7 separate regions of the Homo sapiens genome follow, and all the other regions are linked to region 6. The links come from fine-mapping of genetic effects on gene expression. A gene starts in region 6. Each other region holds a variant in brackets. All regions are shown on one strand. Distances are between the middles of the regions. Region 1 overlaps GRK5 (G protein-coupled receptor kinase 5). Region 2 overlaps GRK5 (G protein-coupled receptor kinase 5). Region 3 overlaps GRK5 (G protein-coupled receptor kinase 5). Region 4 overlaps GRK5 (G protein-coupled receptor kinase 5). Region 5 overlaps GRK5 (G protein-coupled receptor kinase 5). Region 6 holds the start of GRK5 (G protein-coupled receptor kinase 5). Region 7 overlaps GRK5 (G protein-coupled receptor kinase 5).

Evidence for each region.
Region 1: its variant is fine-mapped to the expression of GRK5 in whole blood (INTERVAL, PIP 0.97).
Region 2: its variant is fine-mapped to the expression of GRK5 in whole blood (INTERVAL, PIP above 0.99). The same link has a PIP of 0.9 or more in platelets.
Region 3: its variant is fine-mapped to the expression of GRK5 in whole blood (INTERVAL, PIP 0.97).
Region 4: its variant is fine-mapped to the expression of GRK5 in whole blood (TOPMed, PIP above 0.99).
Region 5: its variant is fine-mapped to the expression of GRK5 in whole blood (TOPMed, PIP above 0.99).
Region 7: its variant is fine-mapped to the expression of GRK5 in whole blood (INTERVAL, PIP above 0.99).

The regions. Positions count from the first base shown.
Region 1 is chr10:119,393,211-119,397,210 of GRCh38, forward strand. GRK5 (G protein-coupled receptor kinase 5) reads left to right here. Exons shown (of 16, transcript NM_005308.3): 4 at 3,485-3,562. Among named protein-coding and RNA genes, the nearest start is that of MIR4681, 17 kb to the left of the region's middle. The variant C/T (reference allele first, on the strand shown) is at 2,242.
Region 2 is chr10:119,248,979-119,252,978 of GRCh38, forward strand. All of the region lies in intron 1 of GRK5 (G protein-coupled receptor kinase 5), which reads left to right. Among named protein-coding and RNA genes, the nearest start is that of GRK5-IT1, 43 kb to the left of the region's middle. The variant A/G (reference allele first, on the strand shown) is at 1,766.
Region 3 is chr10:119,381,698-119,385,697 of GRCh38, forward strand. The region is part of intron 3 of GRK5 (G protein-coupled receptor kinase 5); the gene reads left to right. Among named protein-coding and RNA genes, the nearest start is that of MIR4681, 5.7 kb to the left of the region's middle. The variant A/G (reference allele first, on the strand shown) is at 1,641.
Region 4 is chr10:119,268,742-119,272,741 of GRCh38, forward strand. The region is part of intron 1 of GRK5 (G protein-coupled receptor kinase 5); the gene reads left to right. Among named protein-coding and RNA genes, the nearest start is that of GRK5-IT1, 62 kb to the left of the region's middle. RefSeq lists enhancers at 1-208, 339-588. The variant C/G (reference allele first, on the strand shown) is at 2,415.
Region 5 is chr10:119,275,816-119,279,815 of GRCh38, forward strand. All of the region lies in intron 1 of GRK5 (G protein-coupled receptor kinase 5), which reads left to right. Among named protein-coding and RNA genes, the nearest start is that of GRK5-AS1, 62 kb to the right of the region's middle. The variant C/T (reference allele first, on the strand shown) is at 1,827.
Region 6 is chr10:119,205,741-119,209,740 of GRCh38, forward strand. It overlaps GRK5 (G protein-coupled receptor kinase 5), which reads left to right and starts at 1,831. Exons shown (of 16, transcript NM_005308.3): 1 at 1,831-2,229. The coding sequence starts at 2,178. It overlaps GRK5-IT1 (GRK5 intronic transcript 1), which reads left to right and starts at 2,681. Exons shown (of 2, transcript NR_186528.1): 1 at 2,681-2,910. RefSeq lists enhancers at 338-417, 528-577, 598-707 and silencers at 1,048-1,877, 2,088-2,157, 2,208-2,257.
Region 7 is chr10:119,290,443-119,294,442 of GRCh38, forward strand. The region is part of intron 1 of GRK5 (G protein-coupled receptor kinase 5); the gene reads left to right. Among named protein-coding and RNA genes, the nearest start is that of GRK5-AS1, 47 kb to the right of the region's middle. The variant GT/G (reference allele first, on the strand shown) is at 2,407.

The DNA of each region.
Region 1 (4,000 bases), 190 kb after region 6:
CTCTTCAAGTGGTGGCCTGGCACGGACTCTTTGAGAAAGGCCTTTTGATCCCGGCAGGGGAGGCCTGTCCCCGCGTGCTCCCTCTGCCGCCCTGTGGACCTGCGTGCCCATCCACCGGCGGGGCCTCTGCCGGGAGGCAGGTGACCTGAAAGGGATGTTATTTTTTTAACGTGGGTTTTAGTACCCACAGCAAGAGTATTTTTAGCTGGTTATTGAGGCTGATTAGTGAGCCCCAGGCCTCCATTTGGTTAAATAGAGCCACCTTCACAGATGTATTTTCGTACAGTGCAAATCTAGTGTTCTGGATGGTATAGAGTTACCCCAAATGATGGCCGGCCATTTGCCCAGGGCCTGCGTCCTGCAGAGCAGTCTAGCTACATTCCCACGGTGCCGGACCAACGGCGGGCTGTCCAGGGGCAGCAGGACCCTGGGTGCTTCTCATTCTGGAAAACAGCAGGCAGCTGGCTCTAGAGTGCTCAGCCCCTTTGGAGACGCCACTGCTGCCCCGTCGCTTGCTAGCTGTGCTGTATTGGAACCTCTTAGACCCTTAGTTTCTTCATCTGCAAATCGGGACTAATAATACCTACCATGTAGATATAATAATAATACCCTGCCATGTAGGGTGAGCCTGGAATCAGCACTCCATATGGGGTGTGTGTCTGTGTGTGGGTGTCTGTATGTGTGTGTGTAGGGGTGCGGGTGTGTTTGTGTGGATGGGTATCTGTGGGTGTGTGGTGTTTGTGTGTGGGTGTCTGTGTGTAGGTGTGTGTGGGTATGTGTGTGTGTGTCTGGGTCTGGGGGGGTGCGGGTGTGTTTGTGTGGATGGGTATCTGTGGGTGTGTGGTTGTGTGTGTGTGTCTGTGGGTGTGTGTGGGTATCTGTGTGTGTCTGCGTCTGTGTGGGGGGTGTGTGTGTGTGTGTGGGTATCTGTGGGTATGTGTGTCTGTGTGTGGGTTTGAGTGTGTGTGTGGGTGTCTGTGTATGGGGGTGTGTATCTGTGTGTGGGTACGTGTGGGTGTGGGTGTGTGGGTGTCTGTGTGTGGATGTATCTGTGTGTGTGTGGGCGTGTGTGTGGGTGTGTATCTGTGTGTCTGTGTGGGCACGTGGGTGTGTGTATCTGTGTGTCTGTGTGTGGGCATGTGGGTGTGTGGGTGTGTGTGGGTGTCGGTGTGTGTATCTGTGTCTGTGTGTGGGCATGTGTGTGGGGGTGTGTGGGTACGTGTATGGGTGTGTGTATCTGCTTAGTGGGCACGTGTGTGGATGTGTGTGGGTGTGTGTATCTGCGTGTCTGTGGGCACGTGTGTGTGGGTGTGTGTGGGTGTGTATCTGTGTGTGGGGGCACGTGTATGTTTGGGTGTGTGTGTGTCTGTGTGTGGGTGTGTGTCTGTGTGTGGGCACGTGTATGTTTGGGTGTGTGGGTGTGTGTGTGGGTGTGTGTGTGGGTGTGTGTATCTGTGTCTGTGGGCACGTGTGTGTGGGTGTGTGTGGGTGTGTATCTGTGTGTGTGGGGGCACGTGTATGTTTGGGTGTGTGTGTGTCTGTGTGTGGGTGTGTATCTGTGTGTGTGTGGGCACGTGTATGTTTGGGTGTGTGGGTGTGTGTGTGGGTGTGTGTATCTGTGTCTGTGGGCACGTGTGTGTGCACACATGTGCACTCAGGTTTAGGAGAGCGACAGGGGGCACAGAGGAAGAAAATAACAGGAAAAAGTCAAGAAGAAAGAGCCACCTTAAAGCATCTCAGGAATTCATCTCTCGAGTCAAATCATCAAGAAGTGCCCAGTCCCTCAAGGCTCATCTTGATGTGGAAGAGGAGTTGACCTCTGGGGAGAGGCTCTGCCCACGCGGCGCAGTGGGAATCCAGAGGCCAGCGCGCCAGTCCAGCAGCTGTGACCTTGGACCTTGGGCAAGTCCCTGACTTCTCTGAGCCTCTGTGTCCAGCCCTATAAAATGAGGGGTGGGATTCCTTACAGAACCACTGCCCTATCTCCCTGTGATCTAAATGATTGTAGTGTTCATGTTTCTTCATGGGAGAAAATCATTGGATCTTGGCTCTCCATTAGAAGAGAGAGGGCAAGACAAGGACACTCGCTCACTGTGGTTGGAAACGAGCCTGGCTGCCTCTGTGGTCACTGCGAGTGCCGCCTGCGTGCTCCCTTTGGCTGGCCTGGGAGGAATCGGACCCTAGACACTGAGGTGTGAAGTTTCCCTGAGGGCCGGCTGGGCATCTGACTGCATGGTGGGA[C/T]GCCTGGGGAGGAGTTCGGGTCCGTCTATGCTGGTGTCATTTCCTTCCTCTTTTGAAATAGCTGTACTTTTGGACAGAGGCTGACAAATCCTTGGGTGGTGGATTTTGAAATGGTTATAAACAATTTGCAATTAGCTCTTTTGTCTAAATGAGAAAGGGCCGCTTACTCAGGCTTTTTATTGACTCGAGGCCCTTTATCCATGTGGCGAGTGCGTCAGATGTGAGCGAAGGAGCCCCTCTGGGATTCAGGGAAATTAAAAAGTCTGTTTTTTGGAGACCTCCCATCTTTAGAGCTTGGGCCCCCTGGCTTGGCTAGTTATCAGAGTCCTAAATTCTGTGGTGTGGTTGAGGAGAAGCCCTGCGCTTGGAGGTTCGAGTCCCAGCCCTGCCACCTCCCGCTGCATGACCCTATGCAAGTCCCTTCCCACCGCCGGCCCTCGGGATCTCCACCTACAGACGAGGGGTTGGGATGGCAGCCCCTGTTCTCCTGCGTCACTGCCCTGGCTCTTTCGAGGTTCAGATAAGAACATCTTAAAAAACCTGTGTATGTTCACTTTGTAAACTGAAAAGCTGGAAAAGACCAGGCATCCACATTATTGTTTATCCTTGCAAGGTGTAATAATCACAATGGCGGTAACTATAGCAACTGTTTATTATTATTTATGATGGGCCAGGCCCCAGGCCAAGAGCTTGATCACTTCCGTCTGTATAATCAGTGTATACCTAGGTGCTGGTACCATCTGCGTTTTATAGAAGGGTTAAGCAAATTGTCTACGATCACACAGCTTACAAGGTCTGAGTGACCTAAGGCAGCTTCTCGGCAGCCTTCCAGTCTGGTGGGCTGTTATTTTTCTGGTAGTTTCCTTTGATTCATCTAAGTCAGTGGTCTTCAACCCCGGCTGCCCAGGTGCCAGCCCTCATGGCCCACTGGAAAGCCTGGTTTCATGGGTCTAGGGTGGGGCCTAGCATCAGTGTTTGCTCAGGGCTCCCTGCTGATTCTGATGTGCAGTCTGCATGGAGCACCGCCATCCTGAGACCCAGCATCTGTGAGAGAGGGCAAAGTAGTTTGGACTAAACATCGGGGCTCCGTGGCCAGGTCTTCCCCCCCGGTTTCCTGACCTGCAGGAGAAGGGGGTTGGTCAGGTGGCCTCTAGGGGATTTCCTCCAGGGGCTGTGAGGTTCTGTAACTATAAGAAGCTCATGAGCAAACCTGTTATTGTTCTTTTTTCTCCTTCTGTTTTAGGCAGAATATGAAGTTACTCCAGATGAAAAACTGGGAGAGAAAGGGAAGGAAATTATGACCAAGTACCTCACCCCAAAGGTAAGGAGTCTTCCAAACCCCACAGCAGGTGGCACAGGAGGCCTTATGCAAAAATAGGAGCCCCTAAGTCTGTGCCAGGCCACATGGGGAGCTGTTAAGTGCTGGGCTGGTGGCTGTTGTTGACCTCCTGAGATCACAGTTCCCATCCTCCCCCAGAGAGTGCCCAAGCCTGGCAGGGCCAAGATGGGGATGGTCTAGGCCAGGACTGGAGTAGGGGCGGGATGCCTGCTTCTTGGGGCCCAGCCCCTTCAAGGGTCACCATGCTGCTGTGTGCCCACACCCAACCATTTGTGGTAGGGCAGATGGAGGCCTGGCCAAGTTCAGGAGAAGTGCCCAGAAGGAAGGGCTTAGCAGGGCAGTTCTGAGAGGTCAGCGTGGAGGGGAAGTGTTGGGGGTTGACTGGGAGGGAAAGGGGGTGCCCAACGACATCAAAGAATG
Region 2 (4,000 bases), 43 kb after region 6:
GAGATACTAGCTGGGCGCGGTGGCTCATGCCTGTAATCCCAGCATTTTGGGAGGCTGAGGTGGGTGGATCACCTGAGGTCAGAAGTTCAAGACCAGCCTGGTCAACATGGTGAAACCCCGTCTTTACTAAATATACAAAAAAATTAGCCGGGCATGGTGGCGGGTGCCTGTAATCCCAGCTACTCAGGAGGCTGAGACAGGAGAATAACTTGAACCCAGGAAGCGGAGGTTGCAGTGAGCCGAGATCGTGCCATTGTGCTCCAGCCTGGGCAACAAGAGCGAAACTTCGTCTCAAAAAACAAAAAACGAAAAACAAAAAGGAGATACTAATAATACCTACCTTGTAGGGTGAAGTGACTTAATATATATATCAAATAAATATCATATGTAGAATACCTACTTTGTAGGCTTATCTAAGTTACTTAGTACATATATCAAATAAATATTATGTGACACACCAGGTATATCATGTATCAAATATGTATGAATTGTGTGTAAACACTTTAAACATTTTATTTTATTTTATTTTACTTATTTGAGATGGAGTCTCACTCTGTTGCCCAGGCTGGAGTGCAATGGCGCGATCTCGGCTCACTGCAATCTCCATCTCCCAGGTTCAAGCAATTCTCTTGTCTCAGCCTCCTAAGTAGCTGGGACTACAGGTGCGCTCCACCATGCCCATCTAATTTTTTAAATATTTTTAGTAGAGATGGGGTTTCATCATGTTGGCCAGGCTGGTCTTGAACTCCTGACCTCAGGTGATCTGCCTACCTCGGCCTCCCAAAATGCTGGGATTATAGGCGTGAGCCACTGCGTCCAGCTGACTTTGAACTTTTTAAATGCTCAAAAAAGTTTACTATTACTGTGTCATTGTTATTGTAAGTGCATAACTCTTTGTGCACGTGTGCAAGGATGTCACAGATACCTGGCAGTGGGCTTAAAGATGAAGGGTCTTAACAAATTGCCTTCCAGAATGGCCCCACTAAGTCATGCTCCCAACAGTGGAGTCTCTGCTTTCCCGCATTCTTGGCAACTCTGGATAGGGACTAGGGCTTAGAAAAGAACACTGAATCCTCAAAGAGCCTCTGACCTCCACAGAGGCTCTTCAGAGTCTAGGAGTGCTGTGCCCAGACCTGTGGGGTGAATCTCCCTGGAAAGCCTTCAGTCAGAACATGCTCATTGTTTGTTGAGTGAGAGTCTCTTCTGTGTTAAGCCTTTGACCTGTAAATTTTCATTTTACAGATGAAGAAACTGAGGGGCTCAGAGAAATTAAATCACCTGCTCCAGGTCCTGAAGCTACTTGTGGATGTAGGGTTTGAACTCAGTTGTGGGGGCCTTCATACAACTTTCTTTGCCATTCTCCCTAATTCCAGGAAGGATAAGGCAACGTCAGAGATAGTCATTTTCTTTAACTTTTTCTTTTTCTTTTATTTGAGGCAGGGTCTCGCTCTGTCACCCAGGCTGGAGTGCAGTGGCGTCATCACAACCTATTACAACCTTGATCTCCCAGGCTCCAGGCATCCTACAGCCTCATTTAAATTTTTTTTTTTTTTTTGTACAGTCAAGGTCTCACTTTGTTGCCCAGGTCTTGAACTCCTGGACTCAAATGATCCTACTGCCTCGGCCTCCCAAAGTGCTGGGATTACAGGCATGAGCCACTGTGCCTGGCCCTACACCACATATTCCATCCACACTTTTTCCTTAAGTCAGCACCTTGATGACTGGATCAGAGCTACACACAAAATTGGAAGTGAACGTTGGAGAA[A/G]GTGGCTTAGTCATGACCTGTGTTTATCTCCTCTTGCTCTGAGTAAAGAGGATGTGTAATAGAGTATGTTACTATATTTTTCATATCCCGATGCCATAGCCTGTGCTGCCCAGTCACACTGAGAACAATGCAGTTCTCATAGATAACCCGTTGTTGGGTGATATGTCTATTTCTAGGCATCTCCACGCTCTCCTATCGAGGGCCTTTGCAACAGTATTTCCCATGTTCCATCAGCGCGTCTGCAAAACATGAAGCAGCTTCATTCACCCAGAGACTCCTGACCTTGTGCATGAGGGGAAAATGTTTCTGGTTTTGTGTGTGTTTTCAATGACGAACATTTGCATTCTTTCCTCCCCTCACTTTTTTTTTTTCTCACGTTGACATTAAGAAACAACAACAAAACGCTGCTTGCTCCCAAACTGTTTGAATTTAAAACTCTGAATCTTAATTTGCATAGACAGTAGTTCTTTACAAGGAATGTGAACCATTTGACAGAATTTCCTGAAGGAACAAAGAGCCATGATTTCCTGATTAAAACCATGTTAAAACAAAAAGCAGACTATAACCAAAAGGCTCTGTAAGAGTATTTCTTGTTCAATCAGATTTCAAAGGCAGCACAAGCTGGATGTTTATGGCATCACCAATGCCTTTCTGTGATGCCTGAGCTTTTCAAGAACATACTCAGAACTTTGTCTTAAGCCTGTCTTTACTCGGAGCTGTCTCCCGAAGCCTTGGCCTTCCTCTCCGCAGCTTCAGTTACTGAGTCACTGGAACAGAGGAAGAAGCCCAGGCTTCCATTCTGACAGGCTGCGAACATTTATCTGGAGTTGTAATTGTCATACTCCCACGTTATTTTCTTGCTGTCTTCTAAAGCGATGATGAAAGATGTCTGGGGGAAAGAAAATAAAACAAAAAACCTTCTAGCATCTACACACCTAAAGCAGGGTTTGTCAACCTTGACACCGTTGCCATCTGGGGCTGGATAATTCTTTGTCATGGGGGCCGGCCTGTGCGTTGGATGATGTTTAACAGCATCTGTGGCCTTTAGCTTCATAGTTATGACAACCAAAAATGTCTCCAGACTTTGTCAAATGTCCTCTTGGGGGTAAAATTGCTCCTGGTTGAGAACCACTCGCCTCGATTTTGGTGGTCTAGAATTTGCAAGCTGCTTCTCCGCCCTGTGCATATCCAATCCTCAGCCCTTCCACTAAGGATTAGAACTTGATTTTCTTCTTTTCATCCCACCCTCCCTGCCTTGAGATATTGCTGCATCTGGACAGATGTGCCAAGTACAATTCTGGCTCAGGTGACTGAAGTCTAAGTCAGACATATGTCTTCACTCTCCCTGACCATCCCTCTTGCTGCTGGCCTGCGTGGCGTGCTCGTGCCGATAGGGGCAGCTGTGTGAGTAGCAGGACCATCCTGGAGACAGCCATGCAAAGGGAAACCATCTGGGTGGGGTGAGCTTGCCAGCCCCAGCTACAGGTCCTGGTGGAGTTGACAGTTGATGGATCACTGTGCTGTGACCTCTGGGCAGCCCAGGCCTGCGACGGGCAGAGAGCTGTCTTGTTTCTCCTTTTGGAACCTGAAGGGCAGAGACAGGGTGAAGTTGCCAGGAGAGGCTTTCAGCTGGATCCTAGGGGCCAGCGTGCAGCCCTTTCCCAGGGCTGGGGGTAGGGGAGAAGTGTCTCTCTCTGGGCCGTGTGGATGGGCCAGAACCCTGAGCTGGGTGCAGAGGGCTACGCTGGAGAGGCGGGGAAGGGCACTGGACCGGGTGTCTCGAGACCTGGGCATGGTTTTAGTTCTACCCCGGGTAGCAGCACGATCTTGTGCAAATAGTGTCTTCCTTCTGGTCCTCATGTTTCTCGTAAAGCTGACTTCCAACTAGAACAGTCTACCTTTCTATTTTTCTCCTGATTTGTAGAAAAAGATGGTGCTGTTAAGAGACGGAAATGTGGCCTTCCTAAATTTGCTTTGAGTCCTGAGTTCCTGATTTGGGGGCAAGTGTCTGTGAAGGGCTTGGGGTCACTCTGTGGCTTTTGCCTCATTTTTATGGGTCGTAGAGGATACCTCAATAAATAGCATTTTTCTTCCCTGAACAAATTGAGAGATGAGGCCATGGTTGAAACTTTGAACTTTGGAACTTGCCCAGATGTATCAGGTCAGTCACCCTCCTCCCCTGGGGCCAATAAACCAAGTGTTCCAAAGGCCAGGTGGTCTTAGGGAAAATGATGG
Region 3 (4,000 bases), 180 kb after region 6:
GGAAGGAAGAGGAGTGGAGAGCGGTCATGAAGGGTGTGAAGTCATCCAGGCCCCTCCCCTCCCCGCCAGGTGCAGGGGCCGAGAGGCTGCTGTTTCCTGAAGGGCCCTCATGCCACCATTGGCTGCAGCCATCCCGACCTCTATCTCAGTTTGGGGGACAACCCTTTAGGGTTTCAAGTCTCTGTATCTGCTTCAAGATCTCGATGTGCATCTCTAGACCCACAAACCAAATTGCCCACTGGACATCTCCACTGAAGTCACAAAGGCCCCCTTAAAGTCAGTAAGTCCCAAATGCACTCAGGACTTTCTCCCAGGACCCCAAAGCTACCAGCCCTGAGACATTACCTGTTCCAGTGACCAGCACCCTATAGTCACCCGAGCCTGAAATCTTTGCACTCTTTGATGCCTTCCCCTCCTCGTCCTTCCCCAACCTGATCAGGCTCATGTGCTTGGCTCCTTGACCCTGCCCAGGCCAGCTCCCTCCCCTCTGCAGGCTCTGCCTTGGGCTTAGGGGAGGCTCTGCCTTGGGCTTAGGGGAGGCTCTGCCTTGGGCTTCGGGCAGGCTCTTGGCGCCTCTTGTGTGAGTGATTACAGTAGTTTTCAATCTTAGCTGGGCGTTAGAAACACCTGGGGAGCCTTAAAAACACACCAGAGCCTGAGCTGAAGCCCAGACCAATTAATTTGAATCTCTGGAGGTGGGGCCTAGTATTTTAATAACTTTTTATTATGGAAAATTTCAAGCTATAAAAAGTAAAAGTCGACAGAATAGTGTAATGAACCCCCAGGCACCCTTCACCCCACCTTTATGAACCCACAATTATGAACTCATGGCCAATCTTCTTTCATCCATTCCTCCATCCTTTACTCTGTAACACTTTGTAGCAATTTTCACATATTATCTCATCTGTGAACTTTTCATTATGTATCTCTGAATAAGAGCTCTTTAAAAAATAGTACTATCACAGCTTAAAAAATTCTTTCCTATCATCAAATGTTAGTATTCAGATTTCCAGTGTTCTCATACATTTTATGTGTATTTGTTTGAACTGGTCTGGCTAAGGTCCACACGTTGTGATCTGTTGATGTTTTCTTGACTCTAGGCTCCCCCATAACCATCCATCCCCCTTTGTAATACATTTGTTGTTCCTACAGAAGAGCTTCCCACAGTCTGAATTTTGTATTCTTATCCCTAAATGTCATTTAACAGGCTCCTCTATATTTCTTTCTTTTTTTTTTGTTTTTGAGATGGAGTCTCGCTCTGTTGCCCAGGCTGGAGTACAGTGGTGCGATCTCAGCAGACTGCAAGCTCCGCCTCCCAGGTTCACACCATTCTCCTGCCTCAGCCTCCCGAGTAGCTGGGCCTACAGGCGCCCGCCACTACACCCGGCTAATTTTTTGTATTTTTAGTAGAGATGGGGTCTCACCGTGTTAGCCAGGATGGTCTCGATCTCCTGACCTCGTGATCCACCCACCTCGGCCTCCCAAAGTGCTGGAACCACAGGCGTGAGCCACCGCGCCTGGCCTGGCTCCTTTATATTTCTTATACGTTGCTAGTTGGATCTAGAAACTTGACCAAATTCGGTTTCCGTTTTTGCAGGGTGGAGTGGGATTCGACTTCCTCAGTGGTTTCATGTTCTTCC[A/G]TCAGGGGACATACACCATCTGGTTGTCTTTCTTTTTGAAATGGTAGCAGCTATTGCTAGTCTGTACCTGAATCTGTTAATTAACAAGGGCTTGCAACATGGCAACATTCTAATTCTGCCATTCCTTCTTCATTTGCCAACAGAGGCACTTCCTTTTGATGACCATGTGGTGACCCAGTGGTAAAGTTCATAGAGGAAATGGTTGATTCTTTTCTCGCATTAATGTTTCTAAAATACCAAACTGGTTCACTACCATCCTCCAGTAGCAGTAACTATTTTTAACTTGTGGTTTTAAACATGTTGCGTGTGTATTGTTGCACTGTAGTCATTATCCTGACTGATGCTCATCGTCTCATCAGTGGCTAGTGGGGGCCTCTCCAGGTTGGCTTCTGAGTCCCTGGCTGGGCTCCAGCAGTTATCAGTAGTCTCCTTGCTGTCTGATATGACGCAGGGTTCTGGGCTCATCTTGTACTAGATCCATTGTTTCTCAGAGGAGCTGTGATTCCTTTTACTGGGACATAGCAGTTGCAGGCCACAGTTTGGCACAAGGGTTATTACCACTAGGCCATCGATTCTAGCACCTATTGGCATTTTTCAAAGCTCCCAGGGGTTTAATGTGTATCCAGGGTTGGGAAGTAATGACATCTAGGATAAAGTCCAGGTTCCGAGGCTGACTTACCAGATCTTCCAGCATCAGCTCCTGCCCACCTTTTCACCGTTGGCCTTCCCGGAGTCTTTCTTCAGCTCTGTGTTCTGGCCCGACCACCCACTTCTGGCGTTTCTGACTTGCCAGGACAGTTCAAGCCTCTTGGCCCTAGCTCCCTCAGGCCTCCCTGCCTGAAATCCTCCCCACAGTCCCATTTGCCTGGCAAATGCCTACTTGTCCTTCTGTCCCCTGTTCTCAGAGGCCCTCCCGATCTCCCTCTTCCTCTCTCTCCTGCTGTGCCCCTCTGCTGTGGGTGCTTGCTTCTCACATGCACCTGAGCCACACTGCTGCCCCGTGCTGGCAGAGGTGCATGATGCAGAGTGCAGCCTCCAGAGATAGGATGCCAAGACAAAATGGCTCTGCCACCATCTGTTGGTGAGACCATGGGCAGGTGTTTAACCCCTCGTGTACTTCGTGTCTTCATCTGTAAGTGGGGATATAGCTGTATCTGATGATGGGCGAGGTGTTAGGTAGAGACTACATGAGTTCTTACCGCTCACAACCATGTCTGGAATAGCACTGAGGCTCAGTGAACCTAGCCATTGAGGGGTCTGTGTGCCTGTTCCTCCACTAGCCAGAGCCTCTTTGTGGCACAGACGTGGCCCATGGTCTGTGAATCCTCAGCCCACAGTGCCACACGTAACAGTTGAGTGATGCTCAGATTGGGCCCAGTGGAGGTTGGTGGCTTGCCTAGAGTCAAAGAGCATGTGAGGGGCAGAGGTAGGCCCAGAACCCAGGTCTCCTGGCTCCCAGTCCAGGCTCCTTCCTCTGCATCATGCTGCCTCTGAGACCATGAGCATCATAAGCCAATGACATGGAATGTTCGAAGGTGAGAACTGGGATGGAAAAACAACTGGAGCAGGTTAAAGGAGGTTGGGAGTTTGGATATGGGGAGGCTGGTTGTATCATGAAGTAGGATGGTCAGCATTGGAGTCTTTGAAAAGGCGACATTTGACTGAGGACCAGGAAGTCGTTGGAGGAGTTAGCCAAGTGAATATGTGGTGAAAGGGTGTTACAGGCAGGGAACAGCCAGCACAAAGGCCTGAAGGCACGAGTGTCCGCAGTTGGAGGGGAGGGAGGAGGGGCAGAGGGGGTAGGAGAGGAGGTGATCATGTAAAACTTTGTGCCATCAGAGAACTTTGACTTTGGGTGAAATGGGGGAGCCACTGGAGGGTTTTTAGCAGAGCAGTGGCATGGTCTGACTTGGGGTTTTATTTTATTTTATTTTATTTTATTTATGAGACAGGGTCTCACTCTGTCATCCAGGCTGGAGTGCAGGGGTGGGTTCGTAGCTCATTGCAGTCTCAACCTCCTGGACTCAAGTGATCTTCCTACCTTGGCCTCCTAAGTAGCTGCAAATACGGGTGTGCACCACCATGCCCATCTGTGACTTAGGTTTTTCAAGAATCCCTCTGGCTTCCATGTTGGGAGCAGGCTTTGAGGGGCTGAGGTGGGAGCAGGGAGATCTGCTAGGAGGCTGTTGCAGCAGTCCAGGTGAGAGCAGCTGGTGGCTCAAGCCATCTTAGTAGCCCCTGGCGGTGGTGAGAAGTGGTTGGATTTGAGACTTGTGTGGAAGGTGTATTCTCTGATGGATTGGGGATGAGAGAAGAGTTAAGGAAGACTTCAAAGTTTTGACCTGAACAAATGGAAAGAT
Region 4 (4,000 bases), 63 kb after region 6:
TCAGGACACTGAGGAAAGGCTGAGCTAGTAATGAATAGGGTTGGACTGGTGCTGCCTCTTTAGTGCCTAAGAAACGCTACCCTGGCCCTGTCTCCAGGCCTTGATCTCAAGGTGGGATTCATCCATCATCCACCACGGCCCAGGAGCCAGCTGTCCTCACTTCTGGGGTGACTTGTGAGTAGATAACAAAGGGGGTGCCCTCACCCTGCAGCGGAGTCCCCATGGGCCTTGGGGCCCAGAGGGAGATGGTATCTGTTTCCCATGGGCTTCCTGTCACAGGCAGATGACATCTGCTCTCTGCTCAGGGTAGATTTGGGGGCCTCTGCCACTGGCTGACTGGAACTCTCTTACCTCATTCTAGACTCTTCCAGGCAGCTTTCTGTTTGTTCTCTAACAGAAACATAGAAACAAACCAGCATCTTTTCTAAACAAAGAGGGACTTTTCACAGGAAGTTTGATGACCTGACGCGTTCCCCCTGCTTGTTGAAGCACGAGCCTCTTCTCTGACAGTTAGGGTGACTTGCTGGAGAACAAACAATAGACAATAGTTGTGGCCTACTTCCCGTGAGAAGCAAGAATGGTACAGGTGGATGTTGGGAGCCCCCAAACCCATGGAAGGGGTTTCCTGAGGACGTCCTATAGTCCCTGAACATGCAGCCGAGGGTTCCTGGGGTAGCAGCACCCGTGTGGTTAGCCCTGTAATGGGCTCACATTATGAGGCTTCCGTGGGTAGGCCCTGTTCAGAGAGCTTTGCGTGCTCTCATCCTGGGGAGTCAGGGTTAGGTTTAGGGTCAAGACTGATATAATGGCCAGGCACAGTGGTTCACGCCTGTAATCTTAGCACTTTGGGAGGCCAAAGCGGGTGGATCACCTGAGGTCAGGAGTTTGAGACCAGCCTGGCCAACATGGTAAAACCCTGTCTCTACTAAAAATACAAAAAAATTAGCCGGGCATGGTGGTGTGCTCCTGTAATCCCAGCTACTTGGGAGGCTGAGGCAGGAGAATTGCTTGAACCCAGAAGGCGGAGGTTGCAGTGAGCTGAGATCGCACCACTGCACTCCAGCCTGCAAGATGGAGTGAGACTCCATCTTAAAAAAAAAAAAAAAAAAAAAAAGTTGCTGAGTTGGCTCTCCAAGCCTCTTTCTCAGAGCCACCTTGGAGGGGGCCAGCCAGCTCCAAAGCCTGGGGTGTTGGCCTTTGGGAGGGAGGGGGCCTTGTGCCAGTCCCCCACACTTTGTCTGCTCCTCCAGCCTCCTTGGAGTACCTTGAATGTACCTTCCTATTGCTGTTCCCTCTGCCCAGAGTCCCGTGCTCTCCTCTCCACATTCCTTCACTGCTCATTGGCATTCAGGGTTGGGCATAAATATTACCTTCTTGGGGGCCTGTTATTTGCATCCTAACTAGCAGGGCTCCTTTGCAGCCCACTGCCAGCCCTGCCATTCTTCATCACAGTCCTCTGTTCATCTCTTTGCCACTTGTCACCAAAATGTGTAATTGTACCTTCATTGATGTCCAGTCAGCCTTCTGTATCTGCAACTTTCACATCTGTGGATACAACTGACCGCAGATTGAAAATACTCAGAAATAAAAGGATGCTTGGGTCTGTACTGAACATGTACAAACATTTTCCTTGTCATTATTCCCTAAACAATACGTTATAGCAACTGTATACACATAGCACTTACATTGTATTAGGTATTAGAAGTAATCTAGAGATGATGTAAAGTGTATAGGAGGATATGCATGGGCTTTATACAAATACTACACCATTTTATATCAGGGACTTGAGCATCCATGGACTTTGCCATCTGAGGGGGGCACCAGAACCAATCCCCTAAGAAACCAGGGGACAATTGTTCACCTCCATGACAGGCCCATAAGCTGCTCTGTGCAGGTGCAGGTCTGTCATGCGGCCCACAGCCCTCTCTGCAGAAGACCCTCAAATGCTGGGGGAATGCACAAATTAGCTGGGGGGCAGTCTCTAGGAGATTTTCAGCAGTTTCTCCTGAGAGGTGTGAAGCTGAGAGTTAAGTAGGGTTTTGTAGGTGTAACAATAGGCATTTTCCTTCCAGCAGCTCAAACTGCAGTGTGCTTGGCACGTTAGTGCAAAGGAAAAAAACTCACTTCATTCTTAAGAAAGCTCTGGAAATTTCATCTGTGTTTGAGTGAGTTGGCATGCTGGGCCCCTGGCGGAACACAAATGTGGAATTTGAACTCTACCCTACCTCAGAGAGCAAGGCTGAAGCGATAGGATGAAATGCATTTAAATGTCATGAGTGTTATTATTAGTCGTAATCTTATCTTTGTTAATAATAATAACAGGACCCGCCTAGAAGTGACTGAATAGCAGACCGGGCTTTCGTAAGTAAGCTCACACTGTCAGATAGCACCAGGACCTGGGGTGGCGCCGGCGC[C/G]GTTAGGGAGGGAGTGTTCACCGGAAACCTGCCCGGGCCACACGTGTACAGCCACATCCTCCACGCCCTTTGGGCGCTGGTCATTCAGAGAGGCCCTCTCAGACACGCCTGGCCTCTTTAGAGGCTCTCTCATCCCCTCGAGCTGCCAACACAATCAAGGGTCTGCAGGTTTGGGAACTCCAAGGCAGTTTCTCTTTACCAAGTTCTCTGCATAGCCTTTTGCCTTCTATTGTTTGCTGTCCCAGAGACTGGCTGAAACAATGTGTTTCCTACAGATTTTGTTTGCCTGCATTGACTTCTTTGTTTAGCTCTAGTAAACAGACATTTAGCATATACAGATCTGCACACTTGACAAAGAGGAATTTGGAGCCCTGGACGGGGTGGCTGCACTGAGTCACCAGCTCCTTGAACCTGAAGACCTTGGATGGTCCGGAGCTCGTAAATGACTCACCCCATCAGTGCTGGGCTGGTGTGTGCGGGGTTTTGTCGCCACCTTTGGCAATGGAAGAGGGGAACGTGGGGCCTTTGACTCGTCAGGGAAAAACAGGTGTGTGAGCACTAGGTTGGTGACGAGGTTTAGCAGCAGGTGGACTCTGGAGCGTGACTCTGGAGTTGCCAGTCCCAGCTCCAGCACTTTGATTAGCTGTGTGACGTTGGGGAAGTTGCTTGCCTAATATGTGTGTGTTTCCTCATCTGTGAAGACAGCACTAACCTCGTAGGTACTCGGGAGGCTGAAGGAGTTCATCTGTGGAAATCATTTGGCATGATGCCTACTCTTATTCCTTGTCTGTGGGGCCCTGTTTTGTGGGCTTGCCACAGTCTCATGACTCTGCTGGGAAGAGCCTTCCTGCGGGCCCCCTTGAGCTAGGAATAGAACCTGGATTTCTGGCCCTGTAGGCTGACGCGGCCCTCCTAGATGTAGTGGTGATGCCCCGTTCAGCAGAGATGGTTCCAAATGTTCTGAACTTCTGCCTTGTATGGGACCCTGTGCCGGCTGAATCGCATGGTAGCTCAGGGCATAGATGCTAAATGGGACGGTCCTGGGTTTGCACCCTGGCCTCTGCTCTCACCAGCTGTGTGAGCTTGGATGTGTTACTTGTTACTCAGAGCTTTTCTCATGTGTAAAGCTGAGTGCATGAGGCCGGGCGTGGTGGCTCACGCCTGTAATCCCAGCACTTTAGGAGGCTGAGGTGGGCGGATCACCTGAGGTCAGGAGTTCAAGACCAGACTGGCCAACATGGTGAAACCCTGTCTCTACAAAAATACAAAAATTAGCCAGGCATGATGGCGGGTGACTATAATCCCAGCTACTCAGGAGGCTGAGGTAGGAGAATCACCTAAACCTGGGAGGCGGAGGTTGCAGTGAGCCGAGATCATGCAGTTGCACTCCAGCCTGGATGACAGAGCAAGATTCTATCTCAAAAAAAAAAAAAAAAAAGAAAGAAAGAAAGAAACAAGAAACTGAGTGGATGAGATCTCTATTTCATGGGGTCGTTGCGAGCATTAAGTGTGCTAGTGTTTGTGAAGAGCTTGGGCGGGGCCTAGCACAGAGCCCTGCATAGTAGAGGTTTTGCCCTGACCCATGA
Region 5 (4,000 bases), 70 kb after region 6:
TGTAAAAATGAGTGTTATGCGCTTAGTGTTCCGAATTCAACATCAGTGAGGAAAGGGAGGGCCGCAGGAGTTTGGGGACCGTCTCGCTAAGCAATACTGCAAACACAGACAGTGACCCGATTTTCCATAGCTGTGCTAGCTCCTCAGGAGGTTTTGAGAATCCCCCTCATTTGGGTTTGAAGGAGGTCTCAGTGTCCTTCCTCCTCTGTTTGCCAGATTAAAGTTTCATACCTCAGAGCTGGGATACGCTGGGTTTTGATTGTAAAGGCATGCAGCTCAGACTCTGTTGTAAATGGTGAGTTTTTCTTTTTTTTATTACACTTTAAGTTTTAGGGTACATGTGCACAATGTGCAGGTTAGTTACATATGTATACATGTGCCATGCTGGTGTGCTGCACCCATTAACTCGTCATTTAGCATTAGATATATCTCCTAATGCTATCCCTCCCCCCTCCTCCCACCCCACAACAGTCCCCTTCCTGTGTCTATGTGTTCTCATTGTTCAATTCCCACCTATGAATGAGAACACGTGGTGTTTGGTTTTTTGTCCTTGCTATAGTTTACTGAGAATGATGATTTCCAATTTCATCCATGTCCCTACAAAGGACATGAACTCATCATTTTTTATGGCTGCATAGTGTTCCATGGTGTATATGTGCCACATTTTCTTAATCCAGTCTATCATTGTTGGACATTTGGGTTGGTTCCAAGTCTTTGCTATTGTGAATAGTGCCGCAATAAACATACGTGTGCATGTGTCTTTATAGCAGCATGATTTATAGTCTTTTGGGTATATACCCAGTAATGGGATGGCTGGGTCAAATGGTATTTCTAGTTCTAGATCCCTTAGGAATTGCCACACTGACGTTTTAAAAGTGAAATCAGAGAGTGTTTTTGGTTTTCTTGAAGCTGCCTTTGACATTTTAGCAACACAGCTGGGAGGGTAAGGTAGAAAACTCCAAGAAGTTGGAATTCAACTGTCAAAGTCAAAGCGGGGATGGACTTTTGGGAGTCCTGCCACAGCGGGACCTGAACTCAAGTCTTAACTTCTCCTCTAGGGCTCTTGTGTGAAAGAGGAATAGCTTCCTGCAGTTCACAAGGGTCGTACCATGATCAATTATTATTACGTTACACATCACTTCTGTACCAATTTATATTGGCACATGAAGTTAATATATCCCTATATCCATGCATTGCCTTTGTGATTTGGGAAAATCCGATGCCTTGGCCAAACCTCTGAATCATGTGACCACGTTTTAGCCTAATTTGGTGAACAAATCTTTAACCTCCATGTCTTCAAGTGCAGCATCAGTGGGTCATGGATCCAGAAGGTTGGCTGATTGGGATTCTCTTGCTGGGTGCTGCCGCACCTTGTGTGTCGGGTGCCGACACCTTGATCATTTCGGCCAGACCCCCAAGAGAGCCCACAGACCACCATGCTGGGTGGAGGCACCCAACACCTGGCTGACTGCGTGAACTTCTTGCTTCCCAGTGGCTCTCCAAACTAGTTGTGGAGGACGCGAAGGGGTTTCCTGATGTCAAAATAAAAATAACGATGTCTGTAGTTTCCCAGGAGGAATAATTGTTGATGTTGAGGCATGATCTCTGCATGCATTCTGTACCTGCTCCAGGGTGCCAGTGGAGGCTACACCCCTCTCCCCCTCTTCTGCTCTCTGCGACACCCCTGCCACAACAGACCTTGACTCTCCAGGCTGGGACCCAGGAATCCGTACTCTTTCAAAACCACTTTATTGAGTGTAATTGACAGACAGTAAGCCACACATATTTAAAGAATATGATTTGAGAAGTTAGGATATATCCATACC[C/T]GTGTGAATCTACATACCACAAACAAGTTATCCATCACTGCTGAAAGTTTACTCATGCCCCTTTATAATCCTGCCCTGTCATCCCTTCCTGTCCCCTGAACCCTAAGCAGCCACTGTTCTTGCTTTCTGTCGCTCTGGATTCGCTTGTATTTTCTGGATTTGCTTGTATTTTCTGGATTTGTCTATAGATGGAATCATATAGCAAGTACCCTTTCTCATGTGCCTTTACTTACTCAGCATGAAGATTTTGAGATTCATCTACACTGTTGGCGTATCAGTAGTTCATTCCTTTTTCTTATTGAGTAGTGACCCACTGTATCGATAGACCACAGTTTGTTTACCCACTCAACTGTTTGCGCAGGTGGGTTGTTTCTAGTCTCTCTATGGACAGAGATTTCCTTTTCTCTTGAGTAAATACTTAGGAACATCTGGATCATATGGTAGGTATAGGTTTAACTTTTCCAGAAATTGACAACCTGTTTTCCAAAGTGGTTATTCTTTGGGACAAGGAATCGTTGTTTTTAGATAAGCTTCCCCAATTCTCCTGTGGCCTCTCCCTTCCCGAGACGGTCTAATGGCCCTGAGCGATGGCTCCTATGTGCCCGTCTCCACCTGTTCTCTCAGGGCTAGCTTGGCCTTGGCACCTCACTGCAGGCCGCCCCTCTGCTTGGGGTGCTGGACAAGCAGAAGGGGAACACTCAAGTTCTTTCTCTCCATAACTGCCTTCGGGAAGCCATGGCAGATGCGTTGACTCTCTGTAGGGCTGGCAAGCTGTGTGGCGAGTCCCTTATCCAATGTCGCTGTGTCCCACAGGGAGGTCTTAAAGAGGCAGCCGACTTTTGTGGCCTCCTTGTGAAAGCTTCGATGCCTCAGGGATCATTTCTGAGCTGACTGCTAGTTGGACTTGGGCCCACTGAAGAGACAGCCTGGGATCGGATGTCCAGAAGAGACAGATCTGAGCACGTCTCTTTCCTCTCCCTCCTCTTTTCTTCTTAGCCCTTCCACCTATCACTCATTCATTGCCCCTTCCTAGGTTCTGTATTCATTTGCTGGGGGCTTTAACAATGAGACGTTATTTTCTCCCAGTCTGGAGGCTGGAAGTTCAAGGCCTAGGTGCCAGCAGGATTGGGGTCCCTGGAGCCCTCCCTCCTTGGCTAGGAGATGGCCGCCCCCTTGCTCTGAGCCCACATGGTCCTTCCTGTATGCACCTGCACCCCGGTGTCTTTCTGTGTCCTGACCTCTTCTTTTTTCTTCAAGACGGAGTCTCGCTCTGTTGCCCAGGCTGGAGTGCAGTGGTGCAGTCTTGGCTCACTGCAACCTCTCACTCCTGGGTTCAAGCAATTCTCCCACCTCTGTCTCCCGAGTAGCTGGGATTACAGGCGTGTGCCACCATGCCAAGCTAATTTTTTGTATTTTTTTTAGTAGAGACGGGGTTTCACCATGTTAGCCAGGATGGTCTCGATCTCCTGACCTCGTGATCCACCCGCCTTGGCCTCCCAAAGTGCTGGGATTACAGGCGTGAGCCACTGCGCCTGGCCCCTGACCTCTTTTATAAAGATATCAGTCACACTGGGCTGGGGCCCAGCCTAATGAATGGCCTCATTTTTGCATGATCTCCTCTTTAAAGGCCTTATCCTCAAATTTCTCCAAATACAGTCATGTTCTGAGGTGCTGGGGGTTAGAACTTCAACACAGGAATTTGGGGGCATACAATTCTGCTTATCACAGGTGCTGAGCCCTGAGTGCAGTGCTTATGATAGAAAGATGAGCTGGATAGTTCTTCCCCTTGTGCAGCTCAGCATCCTGGGGGAGAGAAAGTGGGAAGATCCAGTTTTCTGATGAAAGAAGATGGAAGGAGGAGGGCTCGGTGCTACTAGGGGGGTGGGAGTGGATGGTTAAGACCAACTTGACTCCAGTGACAGCAGCAAGGGCTCCTCATTCCTGTTGATGGTGTGTCCTTCAAAACGTGCCGTGGTTCTCAAGGAGTGAGTGGCGGTGGCCTGCAGCCCTCTGGCACTTTGTGGCCGAGGCCAGCTCCAACGCTGCAGGGCAAGAAGAGCCACGCTGCAGGGCAAGAAGAGCCACGCAGCAGCACTGATGTGCGTGCCAGTAACTGCCTGGTGTTCTAGTGAGTGCTCTCCCTCGAGGAGCCTACTCCATTCTCTAGGGGATCA
Region 6 (4,000 bases):
GGCCCAAGAAAATTGTTAAGGTGCATAAGCCATCTAAAGGCATTCAAAAATTTTCTTTCTTTTTTTTTTTATGTTAGCCGAATAAACAAACTTCGGGCTTCATCAGGCCCTATGCTGCCAGCAAGTGACCAGCGTGGTTGGTGGAGGGCTCTAGGAGCTGCCAGCTTTAGGGGTCTCGCTGTCTGAGAGAGATCCTTTCATTAAAGGTTAGGGCTCTAGGCACGTGAATATGTAGCAAAGACCAAGCCTGGATTGCTTAGAACAGTAATTCCTGGAGTGGTAAGTGCCTGAAAAGTTACCCGCTGAGCCCTCCGCCTTCTGACAGGTAAACTGTTGTTGCCCCCATTTTGCAGACAAGATAAATGAGGCCCTGGGAGACTCACTGACCCAAGTCTAGACACCAGGAAGTGGTGGTGGTGGGTATACTCCCCCAGGAAAGCAGGTAATCTTGGGTTGTTACAATCAGTGACCAGACCAGTTTCCAAGGCCTGGAAGGTTTATTGATTTCTTTATATTCTCCAATGCATAATAACTGTTCTCTGTTTCTCTCGGCACCTCCCTGCGACTTCCTGGCAGCCCTGGGGACAGAGGGTTTCCTCCTTCTGGACAGAGAAGGCCCAGAGTCGGCTTCTGAACGGATATCCGGCCCGCAGGATGCAGAGGAGGCAAAGGCCTCATTGTTCTTTGGGGCCTGCCTGCCCCGCCCCCAGCTGTAGGACACTCGTGGCAGATCCCGGGTGACCGAAGACAGCCCATTTCCAGGAGTGGGGCCTTCGGAGCGGAGGGAGCAAGGAAACGGGGCTGAGCACAGACCTGGAGTCTGATGTTCTGAGCATAACACTGGAAGGAGCTAAGAGCCCCAAAATAAATAAGACCGGAATTTAAAAACGTTAATCCCACGCCGGCTTGGCGCTGGCCTGGCTGTTACTCATTAACGCTCCCCACGGCGGAGACTCCGGCGACTCCGTCTGCGTTTTTATTACTTAATCTGGCTGGGTTTGGCTGCAGGGAGGCTCGTGGATTTGCTGGCCGGGTGTGCTGGAAGGCAGTTTATTCACAGAATAAGCAGCTTCCCACGCTGGACCCTGAGCCCCAGGCGCCGTCCGCGTAGACCCCGCGCCGCGCACCGCGGCCGGCGGGGGGCGCTCGGGTCGCACCGAGAGCAGCGCGGGCAGCCAGCGCCGGGTCGCAGCCGACCCGCAGAGCCCTTCGCGCCCTCCGAGGAAACAAAGTGCATCTTTGTCCGCGGCCCGAGGCGCCGCGTGGGAGACGCTGGGCAGGGGCCAGGCCGGGCCGGCCGCCGCCGCGTGCGGGGACCCTGGGCGCGCGTCACTGACCCGGGACTCAGACCCTCGCGGGCCTGGCGCGGACCGGAGGAAGCGGGCTGTGGCGCGCGGCCGAGCTGGCAGCCCTCCCACTCCGAGCACGGCTCGGGACCCGCACTGGCTCCTGCCGGGCCGCGGCGCTTCACGCGCCGTCACCGGGGCCCGTGCACTCCGCTTTCCGGGCTGGCGACGGGGCGGGAAGGGGGCAAGCGGGAGCCTGCGGGGGGGTGCTGGGGACTTCGGCTTGGCTGGGCCGCCTTTGAGTCGCCTGTCGGCCGGGCGGTGCCCGCCTTCGCTTTCGGTGCCGTCCCGGGGCGGGTCCTCGCTCCGACAGCCGCGCGCCAGCCCAGCTCAGCCCCGGCGCCGCGCGGCCGGGAGGACTCCAGCTCCCAGCAGGCCCCGCGCCGCGAGCACCGAGGCAGGAGGCGCGCCTGGGCCGGCGCTTGCGCAGTGCGGCCGCCCGAGCCTGCTAGTACCACACCCCCGGGAGGGACTGAGGGGAGGCAGAAGCATCCGAGGCATTAAAGCATCCGAGGGAGCCGGAGGGGAGGAGAATGGAGTGACAGAGACACGCGGAGGGTGGGGGGTGGGGGGGAGCGTGTTGAGGGAGGGGGGAGGGGGGACACAGAGGGAGGAAGAAGCGGCGGCGGCGGCGGCGGCGGCGGCGGCTCCTCTTTGCAGAGGGGGAAACTCTTGGGCTGAGAGCAGGAATAATGCGGTAGGCAAGGCGGGCTGCTGGCTCCCCCGGCTCCGGCAGCAGCGGCGGCAGCCCGAGCAGCGGCAGCAGCAGCGGCAGCACCCCAGGCGCTGACAGCCCCGCCGGCCGGCTCCGTTGCTGACCGCCGACTGTCAATGGAGCTGGAAAACATCGTGGCCAACACGGTCTTGCTGAAAGCCAGGGAAGGTAAGAGGCAGGGCCGGTACGTGCCCGGCGCGTCCGCCGCGGGCCAGGGTGCGGGTGTCGGGTGGCGTGCGGGCTGGGGCTGCGCCCGTGCAGGATGCCCGCTGCCGGCGAGTGGGTCGCGAGCAGGACACTTCGGAGAGCGGCTCTGCAGACCCTTCAGGGTTCCTGCCTTGGGGCTCAGAGAATCTGGACTTGGGCTGAGAAGGTTGCAGGGATTTGGATGCTAACATATCTCCTAGTTTCCAGCGCTCGCCCTGCAGAGCGTGCCATCTCGGCAGCTGTTGAAAGGTCAGTTGGAAAAGCATTCATTCGGGGAGCGACGAGCAAACATGCACATAAAATAGCGTTTCAAGTCGGCCCGGGATGGTTCTGTGTGAACTGGTGTGTGTGTTCGAGGGGCGGGGGTGGAATGAGCAGAAGCCAAGTCTTTGCCTGCGCAGGCTGAGTTGATATAGACTATTGCTGGAAACCATCCGCTGGGATGTTTCTTAGGGAAATCCCGTCGTGTGGAAGGAAGCCTTTTAAAGGCAAAGTCAGATGTTGAGGAATTAGCCTTTTCATAGAATTATCAAAGGATGGCTGTACAGACCACCTAGAAAATAATTCAGTATTTCAGGTTTTTCTTTTCTGGGAGTGTGATAACTGAAATTGTTAGATTTTGGCTCAGTTAAGAAAAGAAAGGTAAGTGTGCTGGTGCTTTAGATACGTTTTCTATGCAAATCATTAGATTTCCTGCATTTAGCTGGCAGGAAATATTGTCTAAATGGAGTGTGTAAGATCCTGAGTCAAACCCTAAGAACGCATATTTTGACTCTTCCTTTTGATGAAAAACAGAAAAAAGGGGGGGGAGGCAGAAACTTGGGTGCTTCCTGAAATGATTGTGTTGTGTCCATGTAAACATATGTATTTAGGAATACCTGGAATTTATGTCGCATATTTTCCTTTTTTTTTTCTGGTCAAGATTTGAGCTCTAGTGTGCGACCTTTTTCATAAAAGGGGAAGAGGTTTTTCCCTTTCACGGGAGAACGCTTTATTTGATACAAGGTAGAAGGCAGACTGAGTAAGGGCTTGAGTTTAGAAGGATACTCGGTGAGCAGCCCATGAAAATGTCTTACCTGCTTAATATTTTCATTCACCTACTTTGATGAATGAAGGGAAGAATTTCTGGCCAGCAATAAAACGATTCGTGTTTATTCAGCCCGTTCCATCACCTTGTGGCTCCCTACACACTGTGGGGGTAGGTGATGCATAGCCTTCCGTGGGCAGCGTTTCAGCAACTCAACCCGGCATTCGTGTCTTACTTTCGTCGTCACTTGTCACTCTAAAGCAGCCAGTGGGCAAGAAGGTTTATTTCAGAAGCCCCGAAGGGAGGCAGTGCTTTGAAAACCCCAGCAGAGTTTAAAATATTCAGGTTAGTCTCCCTCCCATTGCTTAGCTTTGGTGGGAATAAATTTTTAGGAGAGGCTTGTTACTTGGTGACTTCAGGTTCTAAGGCCTGAGCTGTGTGTGTGTGTGTGGTTTTTTTTTTTTTTTTTTTTTTTTTTTCCTAACCTGACATTTTTAGTGGACAGGATCTAGGTGGGTGCTGGTAGGCTCTCCTCTGGGTTGGGGAATGGTCCTGAAAGGGAGGAAGCAGAGAAAACAGCCCTCCACCTCCCCCGCCCCTCTTTCAGCCTTTGCAGCTGGCCACCTAGTGGTGGGACACGGTTGTGTATCTCAGGATTCGGGGGCTGGGAAAGTTTTCACTCTCGCTCCATTCTGAAATTATTTC
Region 7 (4,000 bases), 85 kb after region 6:
CTTCTCTCGGACTTTTGCAATAGCCCCTAAAATGCTGTCCTCCTGGTTTTGCTGACATCGTGACGATTTTAAAGCTGCATCTGACCATTTCCTTTTCACAAAGTGGTTCTCACTTCTGCCTCTAGAAGGCAGGCACTGTCTTCCCTTCCCAGGTACCCCGCAATCCAGCCATTCCCAAGGACTCACACAGCCCTTGGAAACCTTTCTGCTTAGAATGTTGTCCTGTCCTCTTCTGCTTGGTGGCTACCTACTTGTCCTTCCGAGTCCCTCTGAGACATCCCACCTCCGGGGAGCCTTCTAGATTCCTTGGGCTGGGTTTCCCCTTCTGTGTGTGTGTAGCCTTCTGCTCACATCGGTCCTGCAACAGCCCTGTGTTGAGACATAATCATCTCTTCCTTGTTTGTCTCATCTTCTGGGCTGGGCTCCTCTAAGGAGGGGCTGCTTTCCATCCTTGTGTTCCTGGCAGCAAAGCCACTGCCTGTCCAAGTCAGAGACAGGAGCATGATTATTCAGTGAATGAGCCCAGGATGGAGTGAGGAGGATTGTGGGAGAACAGGAGGGTCAGACAGATTGTTCTGTAGTGGTGGCTTTGCAGAGGGGCAAGACTTCTGCAAGTCAGTCCTTGAGGGATGAGCGGACATTAGATTGGTAGGTGAATTTGGGATGGGGGATGTGCTAGAGGCCCCAGAGCCAGCCGCAGGGTATGGGGTGATCTGGCTGGTTGTACATTTTTCTCCATGATCTTCATGTTTCGTGTAGACTGATCCCTTCTACTTTCTGAAAGCTGCCATTGGAGGTGAAGCAGGGCTCCTTTGGATTTGCGGTATCACCAATTCGGCAGGAGATGCAGTGAAGCTACACCCAGCTAGACCCATTTAGCTACACCCAGGGTTGGGCGTTCAGCCTGGCATCCTTGGAAAAACAGGTCTGGGTGCAGGCTCCCTGTGGCCACTGGCAGGATCCTTTGTTCAGTCTGGAGCTGGGTGTGATGGTGTGACCACGGCTGCCTCGGGCGCTGGTGGGTGCAGAGCTGCTTCCTGGAGCCAGGAAGGAACTGCTGCTGCTGCCTCCTCCTCCTCCTCTTCCTCCTCCTCCTCTTCCTCCTCCTCCTCTTCCTCCTCCTCCTCTTCCTCCTCCTCCTCTTCCTCCTCCTCCTCCTCTTCCTCCTCCTCTTCTTCCTCCTCTTCCTCCTTCTCTTCTTCCTCCTCCTCTTCCTCCTCATCCTCCTCCTTCTCTTCTTCCTCCTCATCCTCTTCCTGATCCTCCTCCTTATCCTCATCCTCCTCCTTCTTCTCTTCTTCCTCTTCATCCTCTTCCTCATCCTCCTCCTTATCCTCATCCTCCTCCTTCTTCTCTTCCTCCTCATCCTGCTCCTTATCCTCATTCTCCTCTTTATCCTCATTCTCTTCCTTCTTCTCCTTTTCCTCCTCATCCTCCTCCTCCTTCTGCTCATCTTCTTCCTCCTCCTCCTCTTCTTCTTCCTCCTTCTTTTCCTCCTCTTTTTCCTCCTTCTCCTCCTCTTCCTCCTTCTCCTCCTCTTCCTCCTTCTTCTCCTCCTCTTCCTCCTTCTCCTCCTCTTCCTCCTTCTTCTCCTCCTCTTCCTCCTTCTCCTCCTCCTCTTCCTCCTTCTCCTCCTCTTCCTCCTCCTTCTCCTCTTCCTCCTTCTCCTCTTCCTCCCTCTCCTCATCTTCCTCCTTCTCCTCCTCTTCCTCCTCCTCTTCCTCCTCCTCCTCTTCCTCCTCCTCCTCTTCCTCCTTCTCCTATTCCTCCTCCTCCTCTTCCTCCTTCTCCTCCTATTCCTCCTTCCCCTCCTCTTCCTCTTCCTCCTCCTTCTCCTCCTCTTCCTCTTTCTCCTCCTCTTCCTCCTTCTCCTCCTATTCCTCCTTCTCCTCCTCATCCTCCTTTCTTCCTCTTCCTTCACAAACACATGGTGCCTCGGCTTCACAGGGATAGCCCCCATGTTCATCTGCTCATTGCTTCTGGGTTGCTGCCTTGGGCAGGTGGCTATTTTGGGGTCTTTCAGATAATTTAAAAAAACCCAATACCCTAAACCTCCCCAAACCTAATTCTCACCCTCAGGGCCTAAGTACATTTGAAATTGCACACAAACTTAAGGTTGCTGTGTGCTAGATGGGATGCGGTGAGGGACAAGGCTCTCCAATCATAGTTTTTCCTAGGTGTCTGTGAGGGATTGGTTCCAGGACCTCCTGAGGATACCAAAATCTGCAGATGCACAAGTCCCTGACAGAAAATGGTGTCATATTTGCATATAACCTATACACAGCCTCTGGTATATTTTAACTCATCTCTAGATATAATGTAAATGCTATGTAAATAGTTGCTATACTGTATTGTTTAGGGAATAATGGCAACAGAAAAAGTCCATACATATTCAGTACAGATACA[GT/G]TTTTTTTTTTTTCTGAATGTTTTCAATCCATGGTTGATTAAATCCACAAATGCAGAGCCCGTGGATATGGGAGGCCAACTGCGTGTTGACTTTATGTTTTACAAAGCACCCTCTAATCATTGAATACTGGGAAACTTCAAGCTCTGGGCCAGGCACTGCACTCAGCATTTGGTGGCTTCATCTCCTGTCATATTCTGGAGCCGTATGAACAAGAATTTTCCCATCTTATAAATAAAAGAGCGAAGACCTGAAGAAGTTATGTATAAGCTGTTGTTTAAGGTTATGCAGCCAGGAAGTGGCTTACTCTCTTTGAATCTTACCCCATTCTTGTGAAACAGGTGGAGGACATATTTTTATCTCCCATTTAACAGACAAGAGACTTGAGGTGGCTGGATGCCGTGGCTCACACCTGTGATTCCAGCACTTTGGGAGGCTGAGGTGGGTGGATCACTTGAGGTCAGGAGTTTGAGACCAGTGGGTGCTTTTCTCTGGCGACGCCCAGTCTGTTTCATTAGCTAACAGATGCTAAGCTCTACCATGGGATAGTTGTAAAACCTTGAATGCAAAGCTTGAATACAATTGAGGAGCAGAGATGGGGTATACAGCAAGCACTCTGTGTATTAAGTGATTGTTGTTCCTCGTCTGTCTTTTGACCTCCCAGTGCACAGCCATGGGTCTGTCACTCTGGTGACCTTTGGCCGTGGGCATTGGGAGGATAGTTTATGTTGACTGCGGATTGCCAGGTACCAAGTATCAGGCAAATTGGCTTCTTTGTACATTCCTCCTTCCGGATAGACCTTGGGCCTCCTCGTCACTGCCCAGGAGATTTGCTGGGAATCTAGGAGGGAGTGGATGATGGCCTGGATGCCTGGGTGGTGCTGCCTCTGCCCCGAGGCAGCAGTCAGTGCCAGGGTGGGGCTGGGTGGGTGCTGCCATCGCCTCGGGGTGGTACCCGAGTCTGGAGTAGGAACAATACTCTATTGTTACGTTAAACCTGAAATAGACGCCTTCAGATGGAGGGGGTGAGTATGAATCTATTACGATCTAATAATGACAAGAGCACTCTGTGTCTTTTCAGATGCTTGACAATCACCTGCTAATCCCGGGGGTCTGGGAGCTGAGCATTTTCAACCTCCACCCCCACCTCTGCTTTGTGGAGTTGGGGAAAAACAGAGACCCAGGAGCTGTGAAATGAGGGAGGCTCAGCTTCTCCACTTACTTTCATGGTGTGAGGAGACGCATGTGTATTTGCCTCTGACCCCTCCTGCAGGGAGGAAAGCGTACCTGGATCTGGGTGAGAGGCATGTGTGGTGATGAGAACATTTCACAGACCCAAGTTCAAATCTCTGCTCTGCCACTCGAGCATATTTCAGAACCTGTCCTAGTCTCAATTTCTTGGTAAGGTGAGACTATAACCACTTTTAATGGGTCCACAAGGCCTGATCCAACCCAGCAGGTGCTCTTGCGGGTGAGGACCACATCTCGGTTGGTTAGACGTGTCCCCCCAGCCCTCTGCCAGGACCTAGGAGTTGGGGTGAGGGGCTGGGTTGCAGGGAAATGTTGAATCCCAAAAGCAGATTTCCCAGGCAGGC